Regions from separate parts of the Homo sapiens genome. Here region 1 is linked to region 2. The links come from fine-mapping of genetic effects on gene expression. A gene starts in region 2. The other region holds a variant in brackets. All regions are shown on one strand. Distances are from middle to middle.

Region 1 (15,725 bases), 65 kb before region 2:
TTCAGAAGACCTTGCTTCAGACCCAGATTTCAGGGAATATGCTATCAATTTGTTATGAAAATGGCTGTGAAAGACTGCAATACTTTGTCTTTCTGGGCTGAGCATTCTGGGACCATGTGCTTTGGCAGCATCTTTCTTCCACGATTAACCTTCTCCTTTGCACTGTGGTACCCACGTGGGGTGTTTTAAATTCCCCTTTTCAAATAGTATCAGTTCCTGTTTGCACACCGAACTAAAAATGGATTTTACCATTGAGCTACACCATGACTTATAACACCATTCGGTGTCCACCTACAAACAGAAGGTGGGGCTGACTGCCACCCACAGGCCCCTGGGGCTCAAGCCTGTTCACACTGGGCATGCAACTTTTCTGCTATGTGTGAGGGCAAAACAAGTGAGATTCTCTCAGTGAGAAAGACCTGAGTGGTATGTTTATAAGTATAGGAGAAGCTGGTATTCCCCTAATTGTTACTATCTAATAAACTACCCCCAAAACTTAGTGCTCTAAAACCATGTTTACTATATTTTACAGGTTATGTACATCAGGAATTCAGTCAGGCTTGACTGGGCAATTCTTCTGCTCTCCTCTTACCCCGAAGACATCAGTGAGGTCACTCAGTGGTGTTCAGCTGGCAGATGGACTGGTCTAGAGAGTCGCAGGTGGGGTTATTCACATGCTTGGCACCTTGGCAGGAATGGCTGGAAAGCTGGGCTCAGTTGGGACTGTCTACTGGAGTGCCCACCTGCAACCTCTCCAGCACAACGGTCTCAGGGTAGCTGGACTTGTTACATAGCAGCTGGCTGCCCCACTGCTCCCCACCCCCACCCCCTGCAAGTGTTCCAAGAGAACCAGACAATAGCTGAATGCCTTCTTACATTTAGCCTTAGAAGTCGCATATGCCCCTTTAGCCACATTCTCCTGGTTACTAGAAAGTCATAAGCCAGTCCAGGTTCAAGGGAAAAGAACTAGACACATCTCCTGCTGGGGATGTGGTAAGGCCCTGCTGTAGAGGAGCTCATGGGACCTGAGGCATTGTTGCAGCCATTTTTGGAACATGGTACCTGCCCGCAGCTGGCTCAGACCTTGGCAAGAGAGCAGTTAGATGAAGCTTGCCTCTCCATTCCTGTAGATCTGCCCCATGTTTCTCCCCTTTTTTGTTGTTCTTGCCTTTAGATTTCACCATGATCCCTGGCAGCCTCCCCTTTCCCAGCCTCAGATTCTACCTCACTCTCCTGTCACTTCCTGGTGCTTCCTCCTTTATAGAACTTACCTATTTTATGTCCCACTTCCTCCTGACCCCATTAGATGCCTGGATGCAGCACTTTATAGTAGAAAGAGCATTGAACTGAAAAGCCATGTCCTGATGCTTCCACTAATGAGCTGTGTTATCCTAGGCAATTCATAACTATTGCAGTTTTCTCATTTACACAATGCTGGGGAAGTGGGTTTGGGGGATAGGATAAAACAGTCTTTAGCATCAACTCCAATCATTTCTAAATCTAAACTGAGTTAAGAAATAAATGGATAGCAGCAGCAAATCACTATTTAGCCCCACTGAAAATATCCACTCAGCACCTACCTTAAAGAATTCTGGGTCACTACAGATGATAAGAAAAAAAAGTAAGATAAAATCCTTACTCTTGAGCAATTGGAATATTCATTGGCAGACACAAATAGAGGAAAAGTTAAGAGAGCTAGGAAGAATGCCACTGGATGACAGACCATGATTTATTGCAAGTAAGTAATCTAGGTAGTGTATTCTGGGTTCCTTCAGTAATGTAATCGTCTATTGAACGATAAGGTGGCTTTGGAGGTAAGACACAATTTAATAGGATTTTTATTTGTTTTTGTTTACATATCTAAGCCAAAGGAAGAGGCTGTATGAGCATTTGGGTTACAGTGTCAGGGCAAGCAAATGATGTATTCTGGCTGGGGGGAAGTATAAACTCATACAGCAATACCACATACTGCACCTGCAGCCAGGCACCTCAGCAAAGTCATGTTATGTGCAGATGTCCATAGAGGAAAAAACTTTTGAGAAATATTCTTTTCCTCTCCTCTCACCCTGAAGTGAGAAAAAATAAAGCTTATGTCTTCTGGATGTCAAACAGAGACCTGCTTCATTTGCTGTGCCTGCGTTGGCTCCAAGTACCTGTGACAGAGGGAACCGCAATGTACAAGCGAGCTGGAGGTTTTTCCATCAGAACCCCACTTCTATGCCTCCACTATCACCCTAATAATTTAAATAACAAATCAAGTCAGTGAGGGAAACGATGCCCATCTCCAGTCTATCTACCAGATTGACTTTGGCATCCTTAAAATTAATCTAAGAGAGAACACTTAGGCAGCCATTTGAGCTTGAGTTTTCTCCAATGTGAGTGACATGCAGTGGTACTATACAGATGTTACGACAAAGTCTGAGTGGGTCATCAGGCCTAACTCGATGCTAGCACTTAGCAAATGCTCAGTGAAGGTTCTGCAACTGTGTGTTGGAGTTCAGACACTTTCTCAGGAAGTTTTGTGAAGACTGAGCTTCAGTTGGATATAAGTGGGATGAGAGAAAACCAAACTTAAGCCAAGGCAAAAGGGTCAAGCTATTACGGAGAAGAAACTAGTGTCACTGTCCAGAATTCGGTCCAACTGGAGAAAAGCCCATCTCTTCAGTTGTCTCTGACCACCCCAGTTCCTAGCCATCAGCACGCATGGCAGGCTTATGCTGCGCTGGGGCATGACTGGGCAACAATGGATATCTGCAAGTTCTAAGACAAGGAAGTTTGGCAAGAGAGATCTTGGTTCTCCCACCAAGACCTAGTCACATAGGAGGTGATGAGATGTCACAGAAGGGACACAGAATTCACATTCATTGAATTCCACATGTTGAACCATTCTTGCATCCTAGGGATAAATCCCACTAGGTCACGGTGTATGATGCACATTGTATACCTGTTAGGGTGGCTGTTATCAAAAAGTCAAAAGATAAATTGCTGAATATACGGAGAAATTTAAACCCTTGTACACTGTTAGTGGGAATGTAAAATGGTGCAGCCGCAATGAAAGACAGTATGGAGGTTCCCCAAAAAATTAAAAATAGAACTGCCATATAACCCATCAACCCCACTTCAGGTTATAGATCCAAAAAATTTAAATCAGAATCTCAAAGAGATATCTGCACTCCATGTTCATTGCAGCATTATCACAATATTCTAGATATGGAAACAATCTAAATTGTATTGATGGATGAATGGATTGAAGAAAATGCAGTATATACATTCAATGGAATATTATTCAGCATTGGAAAAAGGGAAATCCTCCCATATGTGACAACATAGATGAATCTGGAGGACTGTATGTGAAGGGCAATACTGCCTGATTTCACTCATGTGAGGTATCTAAAATAGTCAAACTCACAGAGGCAGAGAATGGTGATTGGGGGAAGGTCTCGGGCAGGGATAGATAGGAAGTTGTTGTTGTGTAGGTATAAACTTTCAGTTATTCAAGATGAATAACTTCCTGAGATCTGCTGTGCAATATAGTTTCTATAGTTAATGATACTGTATTGTATTGTGCATTTGAGAGGGTCTATCTCATGTTGTGTTCTTACCTGCACAAAGAAGGAGCGGGCAACAGGAAATCTTTGGGGGTGATAGATATATTTACCACCTTGATTATTGTGATGGTTTCACAGGTGTATGCTTATGGCCTAACATTAAATTGTATACATTAAATATGGGAAAGTTTTTTTCATATAACAATTATACCTCAATAAAGCAGTTAAAAAACTTAAAAACTTAGGCCACTAGAAGACTCTTAAAGAAACTTCACCAGAAATGTCTTTCTTACGGTGAATTTTTCTTACCGATATTTTTCCAAAGCAAGCACAGATATTTCAGGCCAATGTTCTGGTCTTTCTGCTATTTCAGCTTAAAACCTTCCTTTTGAAAATCACCTTGGTATTGCTAGCTGAGCTGTGGCCCTTCCTCCCACAACCTGCAACTAATGATGTGACTTGACTTGCTCAAGCCCATAAGCTCAAAGATACAAATCTTTGTAAAGCAAGATTTTGCTATCAAAATCTATATGAATAGCCTATTTTGTTGTTGTTGTTGTTCTATTTTAGTAATTTCAGGGATTATTTATCTGTAAAAGAATAAAGAACTTGAAATAATATTTAAAGCATACTTTAAAGACAGCATTTTACTATCTCCATGTTTACAAGTCATATGTGCTTTTGTGGAAGATTTAGAAAATATAATAAAGTACATGGGAAAAATTACTTGACTATTTATAACCCCACTGCCATGAGAAACATCACTGTAGACACTGTAATTGTTTTTTTCTTCAATGAAGTCAATCTATACTTTTTTGAAACATGCTCCTGTTTTTCACTCAGCAGCATGTAGTGAAGGGCATTTTCAGGCAACAACTAAACATATACCCTGTTTTCAGTCCTAAGTCAGAATGTTGCCTTTTGGGATATTATAAAAAAAAAAAACTATTTGGTTAACTGCATAATCAAAAGTAAACTCAACCCAATAACATAATTTTTGGGATGATGTTAAAAATGGCTTGTATGTTTTATTAATATGATTGAGTGTTATTAAACTTGGTCTTTGAATTATTTCAATATGGACATTTTTGTTATCTTCATTTTCTTTGCATTTGAATAGTTCTAGTCAACCAGTTTGCATAATTAGGCATTAGGATAATTAGCACTAGTTTCCATAATAATTTCCAAATTATTATTCTAATATTATTATAGTATCTCCAATCAGAGACTTAACAGAGTAAAACATTCTTTCTTGCTCATGCAATATTTTATAAACTGTGGGTAACTGCACTCCTTGGCTCTGCTACCAGCAATAACTAAGGGATATGTGCTCATTCCATGTGGTAGTTACTCCATCTGGAACATGTGACCATGGAAAAGAGAAGAAAGAGTGGCAAGAGTAGAGAATCATCAAGTGGGTTTACATTCAACATGGAAGTGGTGCACATGAATTCTTCTCACATCTTATTGGTTATAATGCAGTCAAATGGCCTGAACCTGACTGTGAGGCAGCCTGGGAAATGTAGTCTTCCTTTGTGCCTGTAAAAAAGAAGCCGATTGATAAACTTCTAACAATTCACAGGACCACTTACAAATGAGCTGTTCCTTAGGATTCCACCTTAACATCATTTGTTGTTTCCAGCCATTATATGGCTATTCCTTGTACAACCAATTGGATTCCATAATTCAAATCTCTCCTTGATGGCTAAAACAGCCAGAAAATGGTATATGGAAACATATACACACACACAGCACCCCCACACACACTCTCTCATTGCTAATAGCATAGTTTATTTGAGTATATTAATAATAGATCTTTGCAATAAGCATTGTTCTATGTCAGAAATTGCTGGATGTTTTACTTCCATGCATTATCTCAATTGATCTTCACAGAATTAGTGAGGCAGGCATTAATTATATCCTCATTTTACAGATGAGGAAATGAAACTTGAGTAAAATAATGTGCTCAAAGTCACACAATGACATACTAGCAGGGCTGGGACCTATCCAGGTCCATCTGGCTCTAGAACCTGTGCTATTAGCTCCTGTACTATATGGGCCTCCTGTTTAGGAGACACTGCCAGAATGAGATGGAAGAAAGTCCCGTGGGGCAAGAGCTTCAGGCTTTCCTGATCTTCTTGTCAGAGTGGTTCTAAGCTGGGTTATCTGCATCCTGGAGTCCCTCTGGCTGATGCACTCGACAGTTTTGCCACATGTAACCCAGACTAAAGCGGCAGATGGCCCAGATTATGTTATACCACAGAATGATGGTTCTCTCTGCTCTGCTCTGCCTCAAAACTTGCTTTGTTTTCCAACCTGAACTACGGACTGGTCCTAATATGCAGCATGGCTATAAAATGCAGCCTGTTGCATTGAGTACGGGCTACATCTGATTATACTTGATATCTTGCTGTGTGCTATCTTTAAACGTTTACATGTGCCACTTTTACCTCCCCAACTAGAGGGTAAATTTGGGACAAAACCCCATGTATTTCCTAAAAGCAGAAGCACATGGGAAACTTGTATTGATCTAGGGTGGGCAGCCTAACAATACAGGTAACCCTGTGGTCGGCTCTGTGCCTCAGTTTACTTTTCTGTAAATCAGGGGCTTTGGCTGGAAGAGATCTAAGGGCCTGTCCAGCTTTGTGATTCTCCATATTATTGGGCAGTGCTCTTCAAGGGTGTACTATCAAAAAGCTTAGTAAATTTTTCCTTCAAAGCCAAAGTCATTGAATTGTCACAGGGTGAGTATGGTCACATTCTCCCTAGCTAACAGCACCAAACACATGTGACTATAACTGGGTTTTCACAAAGAAAGTTGAATTTTCAAGTGACAAAAACTCATTATTATAAAATGACTAATAATACAGCCAAGAGCCGTAAAGTGAATCTTGCCCAAGTCATTCATCAATTGATACACTTTAAAGAGAAGCTTCCTTATCTATATTGTTAGTCATTATTCAAATAAAGTAAATATTGCCTGCATGGCCCACTGAGAAATTACAGGAAGATTTATTAAGAAATTGAGCAAATTAAATGTCTTGGAGAAATTTCAAAATTAAGGATTCTTTCAACAAAGGAATTTCAAGAAGTCAGGTAGGCTGCACAGTTTTATCATCTTTGGGTCTCACTCAGGTTCTATCTAATGGCACAATGCAGTGAGGCTTGAGGCAAACTGCACTTGTCTCAGAAGTCAGTTGCTTTCCAGGCCTGGGACAATGCCATTCAAGAAGCAATAGCTTTGTGACAAAGACCCTGAAACCCCCTGGTCTTTTCTCTTAAGTCAAATGGCTTGTCTTCCTTTTTGGTTCATCAAATAGGTAGTTACTTTGCAGGCTCAAAAGCCTCAAACAAGTGAGTTTCATTTGAATGTGATTGCATTTCATAGATGAATGTGCTATTTAGCTTTATTCTATACTGTTATTGCTACCACATGAAGAAGATAGAAAGAGGAAGCAGAGTTCTGGGAACTGCAACTAATGATTTACCATATAGAAGGAAGTGCTCAAAACAACCTGAGACATGAGTCTACTGAAAAATTAGAAACAATGACCCACTTTACCATTAGCCAGGATATAATAACAGCTGGATGTCAGAGCAATCTATGGGTGCCAAGTTAGGATGAAATTTAGACCAGGTTACATTTACTCAATGGCAAAATATCTAGTAAATCCAGGTAACGTTTTTGCAGACACACCCTTTAAGTCCAAGTAAACAGTTGACTTTTTCCTTTCATATGGAGTGTTGCAACATTCTAGAAACACTACCTTGAACTTCTTCAGGAATTTTGTGATCTCAATTTACACACTGGCTCCAAACGATACACACACACACACACACACAATTAGAAAGCTTTTTTTTTTTTTTTGCTGTGTCCTCCAGACATCTACAGGGTCCCTAGGACCCTCAGAAGCAGGACCTCTACAAATATGGGAGAATATGCCTTCTTCCTTTTGAAGAATGATGGTACCAGAAGGGAAGATTTATGTGGGCAGTAAGATTTCTTAGTTCACCTTTCATTCTTGTTATAATTTAATATCATTCTAATATAAAAAATGAATGACTCTTGGATGGGAATAATTGGCAAAGGAGTGCCTCGTATGAATGTAGCATTACAATCTGTCCTCCTGACACTCATCAAGATGCCTCCATTGTGCATCACGATGAAATGTCCATCAGGACTCCTAGGGTTTGTGGCTGAGCACACAAAAATGCTGCCTACTTCTCACTTTGATTTGCACGTGACCCCAAAGGTGGAAGAGGGCTTTGTCAAAGCCACAGGCCATGGACAAACCAGTGCTCAGTCTTAGATTTCCTAAAATACCCTCCTCTTCATGCGGCTTTTTCCTAAGTGCCACAAAACGAGATGCTACACATTAATTAAATGCACGCACATAACCTCAGCATAGTCTTCACTTCGCTTATCTAAAACAACAGATTTTCTTATGGACCAAAAGGCCTGAAACGGAAATATAGACATGAATTCTACATTATTATAGGGAGCCAAAACCATCAGTTATGTATAAGACAGACAGGTCCAACCAGAAGAAAAATTGTAAAATTTGACCCAGAATAGGGCCGGGTGCGGTGGTTCACTCCTGTAATCCCAACACTTTGCGAGGCCGACACGGGCGGATCACGAGGTCAGGAGATCCAGACCATCCTGGCTAACACAGTGAAAGCCCGTCTCTACTAAAAATACAAAAAATTAGCCGGGCGTGGTGGCGGGCGCCTGTAGTCCCAGCTACTTGGGAGGCTGAGGCAGGAGAATGAAGTGAACCTGGGAGGAGGGGCTTGCAGTGAGCTGAGATCGCGCCACTGCACTCCAGCCTGGGTGACAGAGCCAGACGCCATCAAAAAAAAAAAAAAAAAAAAAAAAAAAAAAAAAAATCTGACCCAGAGTATTACTCATTCAGCAGTCATTAGGAAAACTTTTAAAAATTAACACAGGATAGGAGTCAACAGGAGCAAGTTTTGTTACCGAAGAATCAGTCCGTACTGGTGGCTGAAAAACCACTACTCTCCACCGGGCACACCTGTGCGCCTGCCTGAAACCGTGGCTTACCATGCAGCCTACAGGGACACTACATCTTTCTCAGCATGGAGATCC[C/A]GCACAACACAGCGAAATACTATGAGTTCTTGTCAGCAATCTTTGTCTCCACACACTTCTTCCACTCACTAACCTTCCACTTACTCCTCCACTCGCTCATTCACCTTCCACTCACTCACTCCTCCACTCACTCATCTTCCACTCACTCATCTTCCACTCACTCACTCCTCCACTCACTCACTCCTCCAGTTACTCATTCCTCCACTCACTCACCTTCCACTCACTCACCTTCCACTCACTCACTCCCCCACTCACTCACCTTCCATCACTCACTCCTCCACTCACTCATCTTCCACTCACTCACTCCTCCACTCACTCATCTTCCACTCACTCATTTTCCACTCACTCACTCCTCCACTCACTCACCTTCCACTCACTCATCTTCCACTCACTCACGTTCCACTCACTCACCTTCCACTCACTTATCTTCCACTCACTTACGTTCCACTCACTCATCTTCCACTCACTCACCTTCCACTCACTCACTCCCCCACTAACTCACCTTTCATCACTCACTTCTCCACTCACTCATGTTCCAATCACTCACTCCTTCACTCACTAATCTTTCACTCACTCATTTTCCACTCACTCACTCCTCCACTCACTCACCTTCCACTCACTCACCTTCCACTCACTCATCTTCAATTCACTCACTCCTCCGCTCACTCACTCCTCCAGTTACTCACTCCTCCACTCACTCACCTTCCACTCACTCACCTTCCACTCACTCACTCCCCTACTGACTCACCTTCCACTCACTCACTCCTCCACTCACTCACTTTCCACTCACTCACCTTCCAGTCACTCACTCCTCCACTCACTCACTCCTGCACTTACTCATTCCTCCACTCACTCACCTTCCACTCACTCACTCACTCACCTTCCACTCACTCACCTTCCACTCACTCACCTTCCATTCACTCACCTTCCACTCACTCCTCCACTCACTCACTCCTCCACTCACTCACCTTCCACTCACTCACTCCCCCACTCATTCACCTTCCACTCACTCACCTTCCACTCACTCACCTTCCACTCACTCACCTTCCACTCACTCCTCCACTCACTCACGTTCCACTCACTCCTCCACTCACTCACCTTCCACTCACTCACTCCTCTGCTCACTCACTCCCCCACTCACTTCTCCACTCACTCACTCCTCCACTCACTCTTCCACTCACTCACTCCTCCACTCACTCACTCCCCCACTCACTCACTCCCCCACTCACTCACTTCTCCACTCACTCCTCCACTCACTCTTCCACTCACTCACTCCTCCACTCACTCACTCCCCCACTCACTCACTCCCCCACTCACTCACTTCTCCACTCACTCCTCCACTCACTCTTCCACTCACTCACTCCTCCACTCACTCACTCCCCCACTCACTCACTCCCCCACTCACTCACTTCTCCACTCACTCCTCCACTCACTCTTCCACTCACTCACTCCTCCACTCACTCACTCTTCCATGCACTTTCTTTTCGCTCACTCATTGTCCACTCATTCTGCCACTCACTGACCCTATACTCCCTCACTCCTCCACTCACTGTAACATAATGTCTCTACCCACCACAGCACTGAAATGGCCCCTGCTAAGACCACTCATGCCCTTGAGAACCTAAATCACTTTTCAACCCTCATTTTACCTGATGTCTTCACATTAGTTACATAGTCCCTCTTTTTTTCCACCCCTTTCGTTAACTCCATAGTTCTGTTTTTTTCTTTTTTCCTCCTTGTTCTTTTGTGGGTCTCCCTTCTTTACAGGACCTTGAAATATGGTAGTGTGCTGGGTTATAATCTAGGCCTCAACTTTACTCTTCCCTGGGGCTCGTCTCAGTGACTCATGGATGTGTATATTTAGCACAGAACTCCCTTGTGAGCTCCAGATTCATGTGCTTCTCTGCATATTTCCCTGACATCTGAAATTCAACTTGTTCAAAATTTCACTTGTGTTCTATTTATTCACCACATCACCAACCTGGCTTTTCTCTGGTGTTTGCTCTGAGGAAATGGCATCACTGTCAACTGAGGGGTTTGCCACGCATCTGGATGTTGTCTGCTTTTCCTTCCTCCCAGCTCACAGCAGTCACCAGGTCATGTCAACTTTACGTTACCTCCTCAACATCAGCCGACTTGTTCCTTTCTCTGCGTCCACTTCCTGTCATGGTCTCCTGGCCACTCTCTCCACTTCTGCTTTTGCCTCCTTTAATCCTCTCGCCTCACAGCAGCCACATGCATCTCCATGGGCTGAAATCTTCCCTCCAGTGGATTACCAGTGCTTTGAGTCAATTCCTAATATGAACCATCAAGCCTTACCTTGCCTATTTCTTTAACCTCATCTCCCTCTGTCCCCCATGATCTCTAGAGAGCAAACAGACAAGCTTCTTTCAAGTCCTTCACAGTGTGGTCTCCTTCCATCACTCAGACTTTGCCTGTGCTGTTCTCTTTCTCTAGCACACTCTTCCCACACTCACCCCACTCCCCTGTCTTGTTCCTACCCCTTCTTCAGGCCTCAGTTTAATTGTTATTTTCTTAAAGAAGCCTCTCCTCAATCTCTAGATTGTTAGGACACTTGTTCTATTTTCTTGTGGCACATTGCACTTTTCCCTCGCAGCATTTATCCACTCGACCTGAGTCATTATTTCTTCATGTGGTTAACAGACTGCTTGTGGGTACCGCAGAACAGTCCAGAGCACTGGTTCTGGAGTCAGACAGCACAAACTCAGATCCTAACTCTGCCATCCCATATCACTCCTCTGTGGTTTCATTTTCTCACCTGCCAAATGGGGTTAACAATAGCAACTATTTCACAGGGTCACTCTGGGCTTTAGATTAGATAGCAAGTAACTTATGCCTGGCACTCAATAAATATTAGGAAGGAAACTTTAGTAGATACTAAGTACTTGCTTGCTAAAAGAATGAATGTTTTTCATATAAAATGGAGATAACAGCATTTGCCCTGTAAACCCTTCAAGATGTATGTAAGATGAAATCAGTTTCTGAGTATGAAAGGCATTGTAACTTGTGTTAGGCTCTACAAACATGGGGTCCTCGTGTTGCTGTTTGTACTTCCCAGCCTTGACTTGTATTTTTCTTGACCAAAATGTCTTAGTGCCTCCATTTTGTTTTTAATAAGAGTGAAATGAAAACAGAATTGTAAACCCCATTGTCTTATATGTAAAAATGTTGTATCCAGACAGCAAAAGCTGCACTGCCCCCATTCCCAATAAGGAAAGACAGTGTAGCAAACACAAGACTCCCTCCCCAGGAGCATGCACAGAAAGCAGGGAAAAGAAACCTTCCCTAGGCTCTCCTTGAACTGTGTAAGCATAGCCTCCCTGACCCTAGGGCTGACAGTCTAGCATTTGATCCCCTGGGAAAATTTGTAGGCTTTAGTAAATGAATGGACCTTGAAGTTTTCCTTTGGGGGAGAGGTGCTATTTAAAACTCGGCAACAGCTGAATGCTAATGTACAGCAACAGCAGGAGCAGTGAAAGTTTGCTGCCATGCCTGAGCTAGGCCCCTAATTAATCAAACTCCCTTCCCTGTCCGCAGTCAATGCATTTTCTCTAATTTAGTTCAGTGCCACAGAGAAGAGTATATTCCTGCTATGAATAGAGTTCTAAAAGTTTACAGATTCTGAGGGTGGGAAGGTATCTTAGGTCCGCTGAATTCAAAAGCCTATTCCATGACATCAGTAATTCACTCCTTGATGCGTGGCCAAGCTGCAGGTGCCAACCTTCCTGCGTGGGGTCCCTTAACACAAGGGTGGGAAGGCCCCAAGCTATGTCCAATGTGTAGACAGCTCCTGGTTGATCCACCCAGTGGGACTCTGGGTCAAAAGAGGGGAGCCAGAGGCAGCAGGGATAACACAGCCAAGGTTTGTGGCTGGAACTGAGAGAGGATGCTGGGAGACAAAGGATAAGTGAGTGAAGATTTTAATGAGGAGGAAATGGTAAATGCAGGCATCAGAGATAAGGTGAGATGGCATAGAATGAAGTCCTCCCACCACGTTGAGCAAAACATCCCTCTTAGATGCCCACAGGTCCCACAGGTCCCAGGGGATTTGCAAGCCAGGGTGAAGTTTTCAGGGGTCCAAACTATCGCTAACAATGAAGGAGAACTTAAGGGGAAAATAAAATACCATTGAAAAATACTGAGAGAAGCATTGGGTTGGGCGTCAGGAGGTCTGTTTTCCAGTTCTGACCCCACCACTTGAGCCATTTGGGTAAGGGACTTAATCAAAATAGAGTGGTTTCATAGCTGTCAAAGCACTCAAAGCTATAGTCACTCAGCAGATTCAGTGCCAAATGACTTTCTGTTAAAGTCGTTCTACTTAGAACCCCCCACTTTGATCAAAAAGTTAACACATAGCTGACCACAAACCCCAAGCACTTTGGAAGGTGAGACATTGTCAGATTGCTGTGATAAGTAAATAGAGTACAGTGTGAAATTTCTAGAGGGCTGTCAGAAGAGAAGGCCTCTAACAGGAAATGCCGAAAGATCCTCCCAGTAGAATTTTTTTTTTCCCGGAAACTTCCTAAGAATCGCTCTAAATGTCACTATGCACAAACCCACTTGATCATCTCAATGGAACTGCGCCTTTCAGAAGTTCGACTGCGGCCCCAGCTATTGCTCTGAAACCCATCGCTGTGTTTGTGCTGAGACCTTGCCTCCCCAGGGCTGCTTCCAGCTCAAAACTGAGCATGACCGAGACTGAGACAGGCCCATTCCTCGGAAATGAGGGCCTCCTCTGATGCCCAGCTTTGACTAGGAGCCAGAACTATGTCTCAAACTGATGACTCTTTTGGCCCCTTTGACTTCCTGCCCACCTCAGACATTTCCCAAAGAGATCTCTTGCACATCTTATCCCATCTTTTTTTTTATTTTCTTTTTCTTTCTTTTTCTACTAAATAGATAAATATAAATATATATTTCTATTAAATATATAAATATAAATAAATATATAGTTCTATTAAATGTATAAATATAAATATATATTTAATTATATGTTATAATTAAATATATAGGAATTAAATTATAATTAAATTGTTTTAAAATTATAATTAAATTATAAATATATAATAACTTCTATATGTTTAATTATATATTATAATGTATTTCTGGAGAGAGAGAGAGAGAGACAGGGTCTTGCTCTGTTGCCCAGGCTAGAGCGCAGTGTGTGATCATGGCTCACTGCAACCTCAACTTCCTGGGCTCAAGCCATCCTCCCACTTCAGCCTCCCAAGTAGCTGGGACCACAGGTGTGCACCATAGTGCCTGGCTAATTTTTCTTTTTTTTTTTCTACTTTTTATAGAGGCAGAGTCTGCCTATGCTGGCCAGGCTGATCTCAAACTCCTGGGTTCAAATAATCCTCCTGCCTCAGCCTCCCAAAGTGCTGGGATTACAGGCACAAGCCACCATGTCCAGCCTTCATCCCATCTCGGTGCCTGCTTCCTGAAGGGCCTGGACTCACATGGCTTATTAACCAGTTCATAACTCATCGAATGAATGACTTTTTTTTTCGTTAAATTGTTTAGCCTTTTCAGGCAGAGCCACCAGCTCAGTCTCTACATAAATACAGTATTAAAAGTTTCACCCAGCTAAGCCAAAGTAGACATTTGGGTCTGGAACTAGCAGTGGGTCCCCTTTCTTATATCTGCGTTTTTTTGACTAATTTGCATTAAGGCTTAAAAAGTTTCGGGGACTAGAACTCAACCTGTATTAATAACTGGGGGCCAGGCATGAACAAATATGACTAGCAGACAACTGAAGGAGCAAAGAGAAACCAGGTTAGAATGAGGCACTAGGTACCTCTGAACATCCACCTGTGAACTGAAACTGTCCTTTCCAAGCAGCCCTGTCAGTGTTTACCTGCCTTGGGGGAAAACGTGGTATTTGTGTAAAAGTAAAAGCGTTGACCTTCACGCATTGCTGGTGGGAATGTACCTTGGTGCAGCTGCTGTGGAAAACAGTTTGGCAATTCTCAAAAAGTTAAACATAGAATTGCCATATGATCCAACAATTGTATCAAATAGATGCTTATAAGCCAATTTTCATAGCAGCATTATTCACAATAGCCAATAGATGGAAACCTCCTAAATGTCCATCAAAAGATGAACAGGTAAAAACAAAATGTGGTATAGCCATACGAGATATTATTCAGCCATTAAGTCATGAAGTTCTGATGCATGCTACAACATGAATGAATTGGAAGACGTTATGCTAAATGAAAGACACCAAAATAAAAAGATAAGTATTGTATGATTCTGCATATATGAGGTACTTAGAATGTGGCAAATGCATAGGTAAAAATTAGATTAGAGGTTGCCACGTGTTGGAGGAGAGAGAAATAAGGAGTTATTTTTTAATGGTTAAGACTTTCTGTTTGGGATGATGAAAAAGTTTTGGAAATAGTGATGTTTGCACAACATTGTGAATGTAATTAGTGCCGTTGAATTGTACACTTAAAAGTGGTTGAAACGGTAAATGTTCTGTTGTATACATTTTATAATTTTTAAAAATTAATAACACAATATACCAAAAAACACTGATTTGCACACTTTAAACGGGCAAGTTGTATAGTATGTGATTATCTGAATAAAGCTGTTTTCTAAAAAAAAGCCAAAGCACTGGAGCAGCTCTGGGCCATGAAACCTGGCTGTGGGATCCCGGTAAGAGGGTCAGACCCAATGAAGACGGTGGGTATTTCCCTCTCCATTGGCAAGTGGATGGCAGCAGCAAGGGCCCACACACAGGGCAGGTGGCATTTCCTGGCCAGGTGGGCAGCTCCAGTGGTGTCATGTTAACCTGGAGGAAGCGCCTGGAAAGAGGCTTGCAAGTGAACAACAGCAAAGCACAAGCCGCCAGAGGAGTGAGAAGGAGTTCAGAGGTATTCTAGAGTGAGCCTTAAGTGAAGAGTGACCCCTGGAGGGCTCCTTAAAATAACAGATGTCGGGGAGACATTGAGAAGGGACAAGGGGCCAGGTGCTTCACATTTCCCCTGGTGAGAACTGTTAAGTGAAACCTAAATACACATGCCAGTGTGACCACAATTACTCCC
Region 2 (15,725 bases):
GTCTATGTGTAAATACATATGTAAAGATAAGTAAAGATATATAAAGATATGTGTAAATAGATATGTAAAAATAGAGATATAGGTTTAGGTATACAGAATATAGATAAATATAGACATATGATTTCAAAAAGCTACCTTAACACATACATAATCCATTTGAAGAAAGGATTCTATAGTTAAAAACATTTTAAAACCTGTATTGTAGCCCATATCCTCTTTTGATAGGTGATGGTAAGAGGCCCAGAAATTGGCAATCGAATCCCAGATCAGATCTCTTCCAGCTGAGAGGCAAATGCTCACAGTTGCAAGAGGTCTTAAAAGATCTTATGTGCATGCTCATGATAACCTCCCAGTTGCCCTAAGATGTTTTCCAGCCACTGTTGCAACAACTCCCTGGAGAGAAAGTACACGGGCTCACCAGAACAGCCATTCCCAAGAGAACTCTAATTGTGAGGGCACTTTGCTTCGCTGAGTTGAAATTGCCAACTTAGAAGAAGCTTCCCCACTTCTAAGACTGATAGAGAGGAAAGTTTGCAGCTTTTCAGGCATGTAGTGTGTGTGTACACTTTTTGTAACCATGTGACCTGGGGCACATCACTTAATATCTCTGAGTCTTTCATTTTAAAATGTGATCAAGGTTAACTGCCATACAGCATGTACAGAATGCAATGAGATAACATATATAAACCCGCTTTTATACGCTTTGTAATACAGTAAGATAGGGATTCATATTAATGCCCTTTCTGTCCCTCTTCCTTGATTTCTCCTTCACCAGAGTCATGCTCAAAACAACTAATTCTGCTACCAAATGAGAACCTCAGATTATTAGAAGCTAGCTATGAGGTGCCTATGCCCCAGCTCACCTTTCCCCAACATGAGTCAGCTGGAAGTCCATTCCACAGTAAAGATGCTCTCCTCTGGGATACACAGTGGAGCACAGGGTAGACGCCATCTTTGGACAAGACTTTCTTCCCCTGTGAGGACTGAGCCAAAAGTGAAATTTCTGGAGAGAAAGAGGCTAAGCCAAAGGACACAAGCTAATCCCACAAGCTAATCCCACTAATTCCAGTCTCCCTTATTTCCTCAGGAGTTTTAGAGTACCACTTATGAACAGCGTGCAGGTACTTAAGATTCTCATAGCCTCACAGCCAGTCTTAGCATATGATGCCAAGAGGGGCTAGATATCAAACTCCTCAAAGCCTCATGGTTGGAGCTCAATGCCTTGGTTAATTAAGCATCGTTCAGCAACAGCCTCAATCTTTCAGGCTTAGAAATCTGAGACAAGATAACATTAAAAAAGTCTAGTTTTGCAATCATATATTGGAAGTTCTGGCAAATGATTCAGCATAGAGAATACAAAGAGAATACCACAATCAGTCACCCTGCCACAGTTCTGGTAAAATGCTCTGAGAGGCCCCGTAGGTTTCTACAATACTTGATTTCCCTTTGGCAGACTTTGAATTGCTGGCCGGAATGATCCAGATCTTCTGCTGTTTTCAGGTATGTTTCTCATATTGTTTTTGAGTTTCTAATCAGAAACAGAAAAACCAGAAAGCAGAGTGTGTCCACAAGTAGATGTCATACCACGTCTGGGGAACAGAGAGGGGATATAACATAAGAATGCTTAAGCATGAATTTGTTTCCAAACACAATAACTTATTATTATACTTGCCCTGAACTTTGAGATAGAGAGAAAAAGAGAAAGACCCACCAACTTTGCAATCATATGCTAAAGGTTCTAGCGAATGATTCTGCAGCATTCTTTTTATCTACACTAAACCAAACCCTTTGCCATATCCCATGCAGACATGGTAAAAAAAAAAAAAATGCACAGCATGAGACTGTAAACAAGATACTTAAGAGAGAGTCCATCACTCCAGAACATTAGTATGTGAACTTCAGACTCTGTGGAAACAAGATGCTTTGGGAAAGGGCAGTGGCCTTGGTGGGCAAAGATCCTGGGAATGTAAAAACCCCCAGGTTATGGGGATGTGGGGTGGATCTTGAGAATGACCCAAGGTCACATTGAAGGTGACATCACAGCCCAGAACATTGATGCCTTTCAACTTGCTCCAACCCGGAAGTGCAGTCCATGCCAATTTACTTTTCTGAGTCTGTATTGTCACACTTGCTCCCGGTTTGGTGGAGGTGGGCGCACTGTTCTCACTCAAACCTACTTCTACTCCCCCTTCTTCTGTAGGCCTCTTTTCATCCACACCAGACATTTACCCACTCCAGAGTCTTACTGGATTGTCCCCAACCCAACATCCAGACTTGTTCTTCTCCATCCTTTTTTCATTTGTGATGGTGGCTGGGCAATGATAAGAATAGGCAATAAGGGAAAATTAAAGGTTGTTCTAGTAGATACTCAAACTCCAGAAAAATAATAGATGTATGTCTGTCCTAGAAACACTTTTCTCTTCCCATCTCTGCCCTCTTCCCAATCCTTACTACCACAGAAGCAAAATGGAAGTACCACATTCTCCACTCTAATATGTTACCTAAGTTCTTCTTTGCTGACAGATTTTTTATCTCAAATTATTTTTGATTTTATGTACATATCCCAGGAATTCTGACTAGCATCCTATCCTAATAGGAATACAGAGATAACTTTTAACTGAGACAAGAATTTCTTCTCTACAGGTCAAGTGTGGTGGCTCATACCTGTAATCCCAGTACTTTAAGAGGCCAAAGTGTGTAGATCACTTGAGGCCAGGAGTTCAAGACCAGTCTGGGCAACATGGTGAAATCCTGCCTCCACTAAAAGTACAAAAATTCGTTGGGCATGGTGGTACACACCTGTAATCCCAGCTACTCCGGAGGCTGAGGCACGAGAATCACTTGAGCCCAGGGAGCGGAGGTTGCAGTGAGCCAAGATCGGACCAATGCACTCCAGCCTGGGTGACAGAGCAAGATGCCGTCTCAAAAAACAAAACAAAACAAAAAAACAGATTTTCTTCTCTACAACATAGCTGAGTCTCATGGTCAAATGAAATCTAGGGCCAACTTCTGGCTCCTTATGCCTGTAAGTTCTGACTTTGCCATGACTTAAGAGAATGATCAAGCTCAGGGAAATCAGGTCACAACATCAGAATCAAATGTCATGTATGAGTGTGGGAATGTCATGTCATTGTGCTGTTCTCATTTACCTGTAAGGATTGGCCTTGGCCACTTCGAAAAGGGACTAGCTGTGGTTCAGTGAAAGGCTAATACCCAAGAGTATTTCCCTTCATGGGCAAGGCATGACATTCTTCTACAGATTAAGAACAGCAGGGAAATAAGGAATAAAAGGGAAGAGCGTGTGTAATATGAATAAACTTTTCCATCACCATATGGTAGCCACTGAGGTACCTCTCTCTTCTAACAGAATCAGAATCTAACATCAGAGATATAGACAAAAGACTTTTATTCTTCAGCACCTCCTTAATTTTTCTCCCCAAGTCCCTGAAAAATATAGGAGATGGTGAAGTTTGTAGAAGACTTATATTACTAAAATTAGAAATAAAAGTGGAGACATTACTACCAACCTTAGAGAAATTAAAAGGACTATAAAAAGAATACTATCTACATTTGTACACCAACAAATTAGGTAGTCTAGATGAAATGGACAAATTACTAGAAACACAGAAACTACCAAAACAGACTCAAGAAGAAATAGAAAATCCAACCAGATGCTCACTTCATCACTGCTATTCAATATTGCACTGGAATTCCTAAACAGAGCAATTAGGTAAGAAAATGAAAGAAAAGGTATCCAATTATGAAGGAAGAAGTAAAACTATTTCTATTTGCAGATGACATGACTGTATACAAAGAAAATCCCAAATAATCCACACAAAAACTAGTAGAGTTAATAAGCAAATTCAACAAATTTCAGGGTACAAAATCAGTTGTGTTTCTATACACAAACCCACAATGAACAATAAAAAAAGGAAACTAAGAAAACAATTTCCTTTATAATAACATCCCAAAGAATAAAATACATGGGACTAAATTTAACCAAGGAAGTGAAAGAATTGTACACTAAAAACCACAAATAATTGCTGATTAAATGGAAAGATGTCCCATGTTCACGGATAGGGATACTTAATATTGTTAAATGGCAATACTTCCCAAAGCAATCTATAGATTCAATGCAATCTCTGTCAAAATTTCAAATGGTCTTCTTTGCTGAAATGGAAAAGCCAATCCTAAAATTCATATGTAATTCCATAGGATCCAAAAAAGCAAAACCAATATTGAAATAGAAAAACAAAGTTGGAGTACTTACACTTCTCAATTTCAAAACTTACAAGCTACAGTAATTAAAACAGCATGGCAAAGGCATAAGGATAGACATATGGATCAATGGAATAGATTCAGAGTCCAGAAATAAACACAACATTTATGGCCATTTGATTTTTGATAAGGATTGTCAAGGGGGTCTTGAACATTCAGTGGGGAAAGAATAATATCTTCAACAAGTGGTGCTGGAACAATTGGATAGCCATGTGCAAAATACTCTAGTAGACTCCTACCTTATGTCACATACAATAATTAATTTAAAATAAATCAATCCTAAATATAAGGGCCAAAACCATAAAACTCTTAGAAGAAAACAGGCGTAATCTTCATGGTTTCTGATTTGTCAATGGATTCTTAAATTTGACACCAAAAGCACAAGCAACAAAAGATAAAATTGATACATTTGAATGCATAAAATTTTTTTAATTTGCACATGGAATGACAATATCAAGAAAATGAAAAGACAATCTGCAGAATGGGAGAAAATATTTACAAGCCACATATCTGATAAGGGCTGAGTATCCAGAATATATAACAAACTCTTCCAACTCAACAATGAAAACAAAAACAACGCAATTTTAAGAATGGGCAAAGGACTTGAATCAACATTTCTCCAAAGAAGATATGCGAATAACCAGCAAACACATGAAGTGATGCTCAACATCATTACTCATAAAGGAAATGTGAATCAAAACCATATGACATACTACTTTACACCCATTAGGATGAAGATAATAATTTTAAAATAACAAGTGTCAGCAAGGATGCAGAGAAATAGGAACTTTCCTATGTTGCTGATAAGCAATGCAAAAGGGTACAACCACTGTGGAAAACAGTTTGGTGGTTCCTTAAAAAATTAAAAATAGGATTATTGTATAACTCAGAAATTCCAAAAGTATATATATTTGGTATATATCCAAAAGAACTGAAAACATATTGTTCATGCAGAAATTTGTACACAAATGCTTATTATTGCTGCATTAGCTACAATAGCCAAAAGATGAAAACAACCCAAATGTCCATTGACAGATGAACAAATAACTTGTGGTATAAACATACAATGGGAATATTATTTTTCCATTAAAAAGAACGAATACTGGCATGTGCTACAGCTTGTATGAATCTCAGAAACATTATTACAAGTGAATGTAGCCAGCCACAACAGGTCATGTATTGTGTGATTCCGTTTATATGAAATATCCAGAGGTGGTGGTTGCAGATTTTGAATGTGCTAAATGTCACTGAATTGAATACTTTAAAATGGTTAATTGTATGTTATGTGAATTTTACCTCAATTTTTTAAATGGGTCATAAACTTATGTTTAGCATAATCCCCTTTTAATTTTAAAAAATGCAGATATTACATGAGAAAAAATGTGCTAGAGCATATTTCAAGACATTAAAGATGGTTATCAGTGAATGATGAGAAATTAGGTAATGTTTATTATTTTCGCTTTGCTAAAATTATTTAAAAATTACTTGCATATTAAATTTTTTAATGCCTAGGAAAGAAAGACTATAGTTGTATTGACTAAGATTTCTACGAGCATGGGGAAAATGCTTAATTTGTAGGGTTAATCAAGGATAAAATAAATTGCATTGTATGTACAATGTGATCCCAAGTATTTAAAACACACTGCTTATGGTAACAGTCAGTCTGTGGGAGACAGGTTAAAAAGTGATATTTTCCCTTCCTACTTTCCAAATTTTCTTAACAAACATATATTATGACTATAATCAGAAAAAATTATTTTTAAAACGTCTACTATGGGGCAAGCTAGGTTCAAAAAATAGAAGTTTGATAAATGTAGTTGGCTTGCTATTGACAAGGAAGACGTTTACACTGGAATTCTATATTTTGAGATATACCATTCCTCATAGAAAAATTTCCTCACAGAAAATATAAAGGTGGAAACAAATCACAAGAATCGAACCATGTAGAGAGACTTAGTTGTCTTTTAACAGAATTGGGCACGGGCTGTTCAGAAACAACAATCTTTCACATCCATTATAATGATAGCATTAGTGTAGTTTGTTTAGCAAATGTTTACTGTGAGCCTGTTATGTGCTGAGCCTGCTATGTAAGAAGTGTGGCTCTCTGGACAGGAGACAGAATACTAAACAACACAACTACTGATCTTTGGCTGCCTGGCATGCTTCCTCACTTCATATGGTATCAGCAATTTAGCACCACAAACGTCCTTTAGAGAACCAGCCCTTTCTCATTCTTGGTTCTAGTGGCTTGAGTAGACTGACCCCAGCCTACCCAAAGTGGATTTGACTCCTAGCAATTCATTAATCTAGCCCAATAAAATGTCAAGTACAGGACTTTTATTGAAAGCATTCAGAAAAGAGGTGGACTCTCACACTAAACATTTGTAACTAAATAAGGGATGTTAGAAATTCTCTAGAAAGGAAGCTATGATAATAAATGGGTTGCTAGATGGGTCTAGTAGATGGTGGCCATGCTTTGTTACTGCCTTGTGTATTGTGCTACCATAGCCCTCCCCAAACTGTACTCTGGCTCCTGGCATTTCCGTCTCTTCAACCAGATGGTCAGCTCTCTAAGTGAAGGAGACACATCTCCAACATGCTTGGTTCTAGCACAACAGAAGGGCTCAAACACATACCTGCTAAAGAAACTATCCTGATGGATTTAGCAGCATGGCCATGAGGCATTGGCGGTTCTATCACTGGGAACTCAGGTTTCTGGTGCTCCAGTACCTCTACTGGCTGATACCACATCCTACAATTCACTTCATAGGCTTGGGTTCCTGCTCTGGGCTGAATAGGTGGTCCACTCTGAGTCATCAGCTGTGGGTGATGATGTGGTCACTGCATGATTCTCACACAAGCACCCAGAGGACGTCATCAGGCAGAGGCAGTGGGGGTGGGCAGCATTTACAGAAAATCTGTGATGAGACACCACAAAACCAGAGGGGAACATGAAGTCACTGAGCCTGCTCCACCTCTTTCCTCTCCCAAGAGCTAAAAGAGAGCAAGGAGGAAACAACAGCAGCTCCAACCAGGGCAGCCTTCCTGAGAAGATGCAACCAATCCTGCTTCTGCTGGCCTTCCTCCTGCTGCCCAGGGCAGATGCAGGTGAGTGACCGTCTCCACCCTCGGGGGCCCAACCCCATCCCACAGGTCTCCTGCCCTTTCTCCACATTCCTGATCCATCTATCTACCAGGAATGTTCTGAACTCCAGCTCCCATTCTACCAAGACCCCCCAAGTGTGATGCTGGATAAGCTATCAGCAGGAATGGCAGAGCAGCAGGCCATTCTCAAGAAGAGCCAGTGGGTACTATCCCTTCCCCAGAGCCCACCTTTGTCACCTGGAGAGTAGGACTTTCCTAGAAGTAAATGGCAGAGGATGGGAAACTAGAAAAGAGAAATATTAAATTATTCTAGAGTAGGCCTGGCTTCTGTTTCTGGGATAAGACAGGTGCTTCTCTCACTGTCTACTTAGGAGAGAAACCCAGAGCTCAGCTGACAGCAGAATTGGTACAATCACTGTCCTCAGAACACTGTTAATGTGTTTGCTCAGTCCCATTCTCCAACTCTGCTTTTCTTCCCTGGCCTTTGGTGGCTCCCCTCTTTCCAAGGATGAGGCACTACGGCAGGCCCCAGCTTCCCTGCTTTCTAGAATTCCACCAGCACTGCTCTACCAGCCCTCATCCAGAGGCTAACTGGAGCCAGTCCATCATGCAGCCATGAACATTTACTGGGCACCCACTACATGTCAGGCTCTAGGAAACAGGATATGACAGTATCTAGATCCCTCCACTTACACCCTGGCCATTAGAAAGCAGCACTATCCTAGACACCACAGGACTCATAAGGGTCTTGGAAACTCACCTGAAACAAAGCAAAGTCAGGAGAGGAATGATCAGGAGCCTCTGGGATTTCACTGTCCCTAAGACAGGTATGCTCGCCTTCAACTACATATGGAAGAAAGATTTACAGACCAAAGTCTGCTGTTCTTCCCTTTTTCAGAGCAGGAAATTGAAGCCCCTTCCTCCAGGCCACTCCCAACTCCAGGCTATCCCAGGCTCCCAAATGCCCAGGAGTTCTGGAGCCACTAAGCAGGTGCCCACCCAGCAGATTCCATGGGTGCCCACAAGCAGACAGACTTTTCCTTCAGGGGAGATCATCGGGGGACATGAGGCCAAGCCCCACTCCCGCCCCTACATGGCTTATCTTATGATCTGGGATCAGAAGTCTCTGAAGAGGTGCGGTGGCTTCCTGATACGAGACGACTTCGTGCTGACAGCTGCTCACTGTTGGGGAAGGTGAGGAGCAGAAAACAGCCCACACCCTCCTGGAAACACTCCACAGAGACCCCTGCCTTCTTCCCAAGGAGCTCCCTGGGCTCCTGTGAACACACATGCCAGGAGGTCTCCTTAGAGGGTGAGAAAAGGGCAGTTAAGTTTGTGGAGAGAGGGGAAGGTTGGTTCCAGAGGTGCTGCTGAAGTAAGAAACAGCAGAGTGACCAAGCCTGCCATATTTAGAACTGGGGGCATACTTTGGCATAGAATACAAACTGAAGCAATTCCACCTGTGTTTCTAGGGGGAACCGAACCCTGAGAAACCTGGTGCAATTACCAGAATTCCAATTCCTGGGGACCGACTGTCCCCTTAATTTCCCCTCAGCTGCAGCCCTGCCCCAGCTGTCACCTGCTCTTCACTGTCTCTGGGCTGTATACCCTGTGACTCCACCCCCATCCTCACTCTGCTCTCTGTGCAGCTCCATAAATGTCACCTTGGGGGCCCACAATATCAAAGAACAGGAGCCGACCCAGCAGTTTATCCCTGTGAAAAGACCCATCCCCCATCCAGCCTATAATCCTAAGAACTTCTCCAACGACATCATGCTACTGCAGGTGAGGCACACTCCTGCCACTCTTGCTCTTCTTGGTCCAGTTGGTTCCACTCCCCCTGGAATGCCGGCCCTTCCCTCCTTTCCATCCTGGCCTCTTGGTTAGTTCCTATGCCTCAGAGGAGAGGGAAGATTGTGCAGCCCCATCACTGTGTCGGGGCCCAGAAGTTCGTTGGCTGACCTGGACTTTCTTGCCTCTTCCCCACCAGCTGGAGAGAAAGGCCAAGCGGACCAGAGCTGTGCAGCCCCTCAGGCTACCTAGCAACAAGGCCCAGGTGAAGCCAGGGCAGACATGCAGTGTGGCCGGCTGGGGGCAGACGGCCCCCCTGGGAAAACACTCACACACACTACAAGAGGTGAAGATGACAGTGCAGGAAGATCGAAAGTGCGAATCTGACTTACGCCATTATTACGACAGTACCATTGAGTTGTGCGTGGGGGACCCAGAGATTAAAAAGACTTCCTTTAAGGTAAGACTATGCACCTGCCTGGATTGGCTCTTGGGAGAAAGATGTTTGGGGAATATCTGAGACCTGGAGACTCAAGTAGTGGGGGACTCCTTCACCCACTAGACTGTGATATTTCTCTCTGGAAAGAGAAGAGGGGACTAGACTGAGCTGGGGAGAAATTAGGGCCTCTGCAAACTTACCAGGAGGCTTATGGTGGATGGTGCTTCTTTGGAAGGATGAATTTGCAACACTCCACCCACTCCAGGTCACAGATATTAGGAAACTGTGCCCACTGGGGGTGCAGTAATTATAACCAGGTGTGTCTTCAGAGGCTGGTACCCAACGTGGTTAATGGGCTGGTCCTCCATGGTGGACATCAGCCCTCCTTGCCCACTTCTGGGTCCTTAAACAGCCAACGGTCCCACATACCTCCGATCTCAGGATCTGGGGGACATGACGGAGGCTGGCCCCTGGGATGAGGTGAAGCAGTAACAATGTCCAGGGCCAGAGCTTGGCAGCTGGGGGCCACCAGCGGCCTGCCCTGCCCTCTGGTCTCCCACATGTAGGCTGTGCAAGTTGGCCTTTTCTAAAAGGGGGCTTGAGATGGAAGAGAGGGCAGGACCCGGAGGAGCATCAGCTCAGTCCTTCCACTCTCTATTCACAGGGGGACTCTGGAGGCCCTCTTGTGTGTAACAAGGTGGCCCAGGGCATTGTCTCCTATGGACGAAACAATGGCATGCCTCCACGAGCCTGCACCAAAGTCTCAAGCTTTGTACACTGGATAAAGAAAACCATGAAACGCTACTAACTACAGGAAGCAAACTAAGCCCCCGCTGTAATGAAACACCTTCTCTGGAGCCAAGTCCAGATTTACACTGGGAGAGGTGCCAGCAACTGAATAAATACCTCTTAGCTGAGTGGAAAAGCTGGTTTCTTGTTTATTCATTGACCCTCATTCTCAGGCACCACATCTGCGCTATGCAGGCCAATGACACAATTTTGCTGTTTTCTGCTTTCTCCTCTCCCCTCACCCCTTGCCACCTCCCCAAACCCCCACATGAAGCTGATACTCAGCTCCTTCCTATCCACACCAGTTTCTCCAGGGCCTGCCCTTCTGCCAAGGCTGAAGCTGAGCACCATCAGGAGACAACATGGACCACTTTGGTCCTGGGGCTTTGGGTAAACTTCTTACCTCCTTCTCCAGTGTTACATGACAGAGAAAAAAGGGATAATACCATGGGACCTAACTCCTCATCCCCCACTGGGGCTCCTCATTCTCCCCTGGGCTTAGTTTCTCTACCCTCCTCTGAGCTCAAGGCTCAGCTCGTCCTCCAGCCTCTTGGCTGCCCCTTCTCTTCATCCCTGCTGAGTGTTCTCAGAATCCACCAACTCTTGTCCTCTCCAGACCACACTGATCTGATCTGGCCCCTCCCTCATATCTACCCACCTAAGATACCCAGAGACCCATGTGGTTCCATAAGGGCCTTGCCACTGAGACGCCAGCCCATCTCATGCCCTGGCAGAGAGGGGCCTCAGAAAAACCAGGCCTGTGTGGCAACCAGGTAAGACCCATGGAGGACAAGGCTGGCACGGTCTCTCTCCAACCCTTGGCTCCATCTCTCCCCTAGGTAGGGCCAGCTCAACCCCTCCCATCCAGCCCAGTGTCCTCCCATACACTCAAGGTTCACTGCCCACCTGGGCAGTCAGCAGGCTGAGCCCCTTTAAACCTGTTCCTCTTGGTCACTGCTGGCCTCTAGGCTAAGATTCCCTGCTAGCCACCTGGGCTACATCAGCCCTTTGAGTTCAAAAGGACTCCTTTCTGCAGAAGGACTAGAAAGCACAATCTTTTCTATCAATCAACAAACAAATACTCATTGAGCACTTACTATGTACCAGGCATAGAGGATAGTAAGAGAACACAATAACAGACTCTATCATCTGAACCCAAGTGAAACTGACAATGTTGAGAATTTTCATCCAAATTGTTTCACTCACTTTCTGTCCTTCAGATTAGTTCACAAGAGCGAGATGTATATGGAAATCCATGGGATTAAAGTATTTGTATCTTATTTTTATTTCTGGTTTTTCTGAGGCCCCTCCCTGCCAGGGCATGAGGTGGGCTGGCATCTCAGTGGCAAGGCCCTTATGGAACCACGTGGGTCTCTGGGTATCGTAGGTTGGAAGATATGAGAAAGAGGCCAGATATTCACACAGTTTGTATAAGTATTGTCACGTGCGACCCCAGAACAGCAATGTATGGGATTTGAAAACAACTTTAATCATTTACTTTCTAGACATGAAGTTGTCAAACTGTTCAATGGAGCGTCATCTTCACCTAGGGGGAAGAGTAGCAGGGCAGGAAGAAGACAACTAGGGCAGGCTTATTTTCATTTGTTTAAAAAGTAGCAAGGATGAATGTCATTATAAAGATTCAAATTGTAGGAAAAACACCCATTTGATTGGACCACTCAGAAGCATAATCCCTGTCATTATACAGGCTCCTGCCTGTACAGAATGAAACTAGAATCAGGAAGGCTCACGCAGGCTGGAAAAATGGAACAATGCCTCGAATGTTTAGGCCACTGATTACTGCTACATTCATAGTTTCCAGAACTACCTGGACTTGTGAATGTTAGGAAGTTCTTGGCTTGGAGGCCACCGATAGAGTATATGACATATTGTTGAATAAGGGTTGCCCAGTGTTAAGCTCACCCTGCCAAACACTCCCAGCAACCACCTCTCCAAGGTCTTGCCACTAATATGGAGTACTGCCTGGGAGTTGAACATAAGTACTAGCTCTAGATTAATGCTTCCCTGTCTCAAATATACACAGCTACACTCTTGTGGCATGGAGTAAAATCTCCCTCTAGGATCATGTAACTGTCAAAGTTGCGCCCTTTCTCATCTCAGTGTGCACAAAGCATGCTGCAACACAATCCTTTTTTTTTTTTTTTTTTTTTGAGACAGAGTTTCACTCTTATCGGCCAGGCTGGGGTGCAATGGTGCAATCTCAGCTCACTGCAACCTCTGCCCCCTGGGTTCAAGCGATTCTCCTGCCTCAGCCTCCTGAGTAGCTGGGATTACAGGTGTGCGCCATCACACCCGACTAATTTTTGTATTTTTAGTAGAGACAGGGTTTTAACATGTTGGCCAGGCTGTTCTTGAACTTCTGACCTCAAGTGATCCACCTCGACCTCCCAAAGTGCTGAGATTACAGGTGTGAGCCACCACACCCGGCCGCAACTCAATCTCTTAATAATCTTGGGCACTTTTATAAAATAAGTGGGTGTCACACAGCTTCTGATTTGGAGCTGGAAAAAAAATCCCTGCACCTAAGACATACTAATGACTTGGTTCCTTCATTGGAAAAGGAAAACACAGGCAGCAAAACAAAATAATAGTATTTTTTAAAGTTGCCTGGTCACATTCATAATCAGTTTAGGTATGATACTTACTTTGGGGAAATGGTTCTGTGGTTTAAAACAGGCTTGAAAATCATTGTTGTAGGACTTTATCCACTTCTGAGCAAGAAGAAAGAAACAAAGTTTCAGGAAAGGGTAGTGACTGACTGAAAATATCACAGAAGTTAGGACAGAGCCTGAACAGAGCCCATGCCCCCTGACAACCAGGCCAGAAAGTAGCTTTAAAAGTCTTCTAATGCTCACCCCAAGATGACTTTCTGGAATCTCCAGACAAGAATTAAGTTTATGCTCAGACGCCTCCCTGGAAAGAAAGACTTTGGGCTTCTCCAGCAGCTATTTAGTGAGAAGTATTCAAAGCACTTCCCTTTGGTAAGCTGAAATCTGTCCACAGGTGCATTTGGGTGGACTCAGAGGCAGGTAAGTACTTTAAACATGCTGACTGCTTCAAATCTCCTTGGTCTGTGGAAGTTTCCCCCCCAACCCCTACCATATGAAGAAATAATCCTTCCCTTGCTTAAAATCTCTCTAGTGTCCCTACTGACTCTAGGAAAGGAAATGCCTCAGCCCACTGAGATCTACTCCCACCATCCCTCTTTTCCTCCAGGGCCACAGGAAGAATCAGGTCCCAGCACAGTCAGGAAGAGAACTGCCAAGTGGGCTCATGGAGGAGATAGACCCCAAAGAAAGCAAAATCTTGCTAAGTTGTTTCTGGGAATATGTATTGGTGTGACTGCCTTCCCAGCCCACCACCATGCTTCTCCCAGTACCACTCTTTGTGAACTTACACAGCTTATAGGGTTTACTTCTTATCTTGGTAACCCACACAACATTGCTTTTGACCAACTAACATATGTCACCATGGCAGCAATGTGTTTATGGACCATAACACTTAGAAGTAGCTGACCTGAGAGAATTGCAGAATAGCGTACTGAAGACTGAAAATAATGACAGCTGAGAAACAGCTACCGGCAAGATTGGGATGCTGTGCTACAGGATGTAGCATATGCTTTTTTTTTTTTTTTTTTTTTTTTGAGATGGAGTCTCGCTCTGTCGCCCAGGCTGGAGTGCAGTGGCGCAATCTCGACTCACCGCAAGCTCCGCCTTCCGGGTTCACACCATTCTCCTGCCTTGGCGTCCTGAGTAGCTGGGACTATAGGCGCCCATCACCACACCTAGCTAATTTTTTTTTTTTTGTATTTTTAGTAGAAACGGGGTTTCACTGTGTTAACCAGGATGGTCTCAATCTCCTGACCTTGTAATCCACCCGCCTCGGCCTCCCAAGGTGCTGGGAGGATGTAGCATATGCTTTTAAGCAATAATAAATATACAATGTTGGTTCTTTCATAGCTAGAATACATTGTTTTGGAAACAGGGAATGTTTCCAAACATTCCTTGCCCCTCTGATTAGGAGTTACACCATAATCTTGAGCTTTACTGGTCTAGAGGTCTCAATTCCTGAGAAAGAAGTCAACAGTCAGATAAGTAGGTTACTTTAGTAGCTGGGTGATTAATCCTGATTGCCATGGGAAGATGGGATTCACTGAGATACCTCCTAATATTTCCATGACCATTAGTGAAGGTCATTGGAGGACTACTGTAGCCCAAAAGATAAGACTACTAAGACCCTTTAAAAGGAAATTTTGAGGCACTACAACAGATAAAGAATCATACCAGATAGGCTTCTTGAGATAAAGTCTTCTGCACAGCTTCTCAGAGATGGTATAACACCCACCCGCATAATGACTTCCCAGCCTCCTTGGCCAAGAGCCCTTCCAACCTCTACTCAGATACCTCCTTAGAGAGAGATCCTGAGGTCATCAGACTCACATGCCATGACAGCTGAGCTGAGATCTGCCTACCTGTGACCATCACTATTTACAAGACGAGACAGTGGAAAACTTGCATTTGGATACAAGTGTGTACTGAGGGATCCCATTCTCCTTGATGTACTAATTTTTCTTTAAAAGTGATAATAATAGCTCCCATTTAGAATTTTTAAATAACACAACAAATGTAAAGTAACTAATGTGTCCTCTGGATCATGGTAAGTAATGAATAAATTTAACTCCCTTTACCTTCTCCCTTTGCTATTTTTTCCATGCTAGGATTTATACATTTTTAAAAAACTAAATCTGCTATCAAATGACAGCTTTAAATTTACTTTTTAAAATTTGTTATTGTATATATTTATGGGGTATAAAGTGATGTTATGATATATATATACACAATGTACACTGATTAAATCAAGCCAATTAACATTTTATCATCTCAAATACTTAACATTTTTTGTAGTGAGAACATTTGAAATTTACTTTTAGCAATTTCAAAACATACATTATTATTATTAACTATAGTCACCATGATGTACCATAGATCTTTAAAAACTTATTCTTCCTGCCTAACTGAAACTTTGTACTCTTTGACTAACATCTTTTCATTCCCCCACTTCCCAGCCTCTGGTAATCACCATTACACACTCTGCTTCTATGAGTTCAATTGCTTTAGACTCCACGTAATAAATGAGATCATGCAGCATTTGGCTTTCTGTGCCTGGCTTATCTTGCTTAGCATGGTGTCTTACAGGTTCATCCATGTTGCAACAAATAACAGAATCTCATTCTTTGTTAAGGCTGAATACTATTCCATTGGGTATATATACCACATTTTCCTTATCCATTAATCCACTGATG

What was found. PIP is the estimated chance that this variant, and not a neighbour inherited with it, causes the effect. A credible set is the group of variants that fine-mapping cannot tell apart.
Region 1: its variant is the best candidate, but not a certain one, in a credible set for the expression of GZMB in whole blood (INTERVAL, PIP 0.53).

Annotation. Positions count from the first base shown.
Region 1 is chr14:24,690,524-24,706,248 of GRCh38, reverse strand. No RefSeq gene overlaps it. Among named protein-coding and RNA genes, the nearest start is that of GZMB, 64 kb to the right of the region's middle. RefSeq lists an enhancer at 11,008-11,057. The variant C/A (reference allele first, on the strand shown) is at 8,659.
Region 2 is chr14:24,625,767-24,641,491 of GRCh38, reverse strand. It overlaps GZMB (granzyme B), which reads left to right and starts at 7,302. Exons shown (of 5, transcript NM_004131.6): 1 at 7,302-7,386; 2 at 8,430-8,577; 3 at 9,033-9,168; 4 at 9,374-9,634; 5 at 10,278-10,538. The coding sequence starts at 7,332. The coding sequence ends at 10,421. GZMH-AS1 (GZMH and GMZB antisense RNA 1) reads right to left here and starts at 8,390. Exons shown (of 3, transcript XR_007064087.1): 1 at 8,144-8,390; 2 at 864-7,196. RefSeq lists enhancers at 1,410-2,609, 6,724-7,923.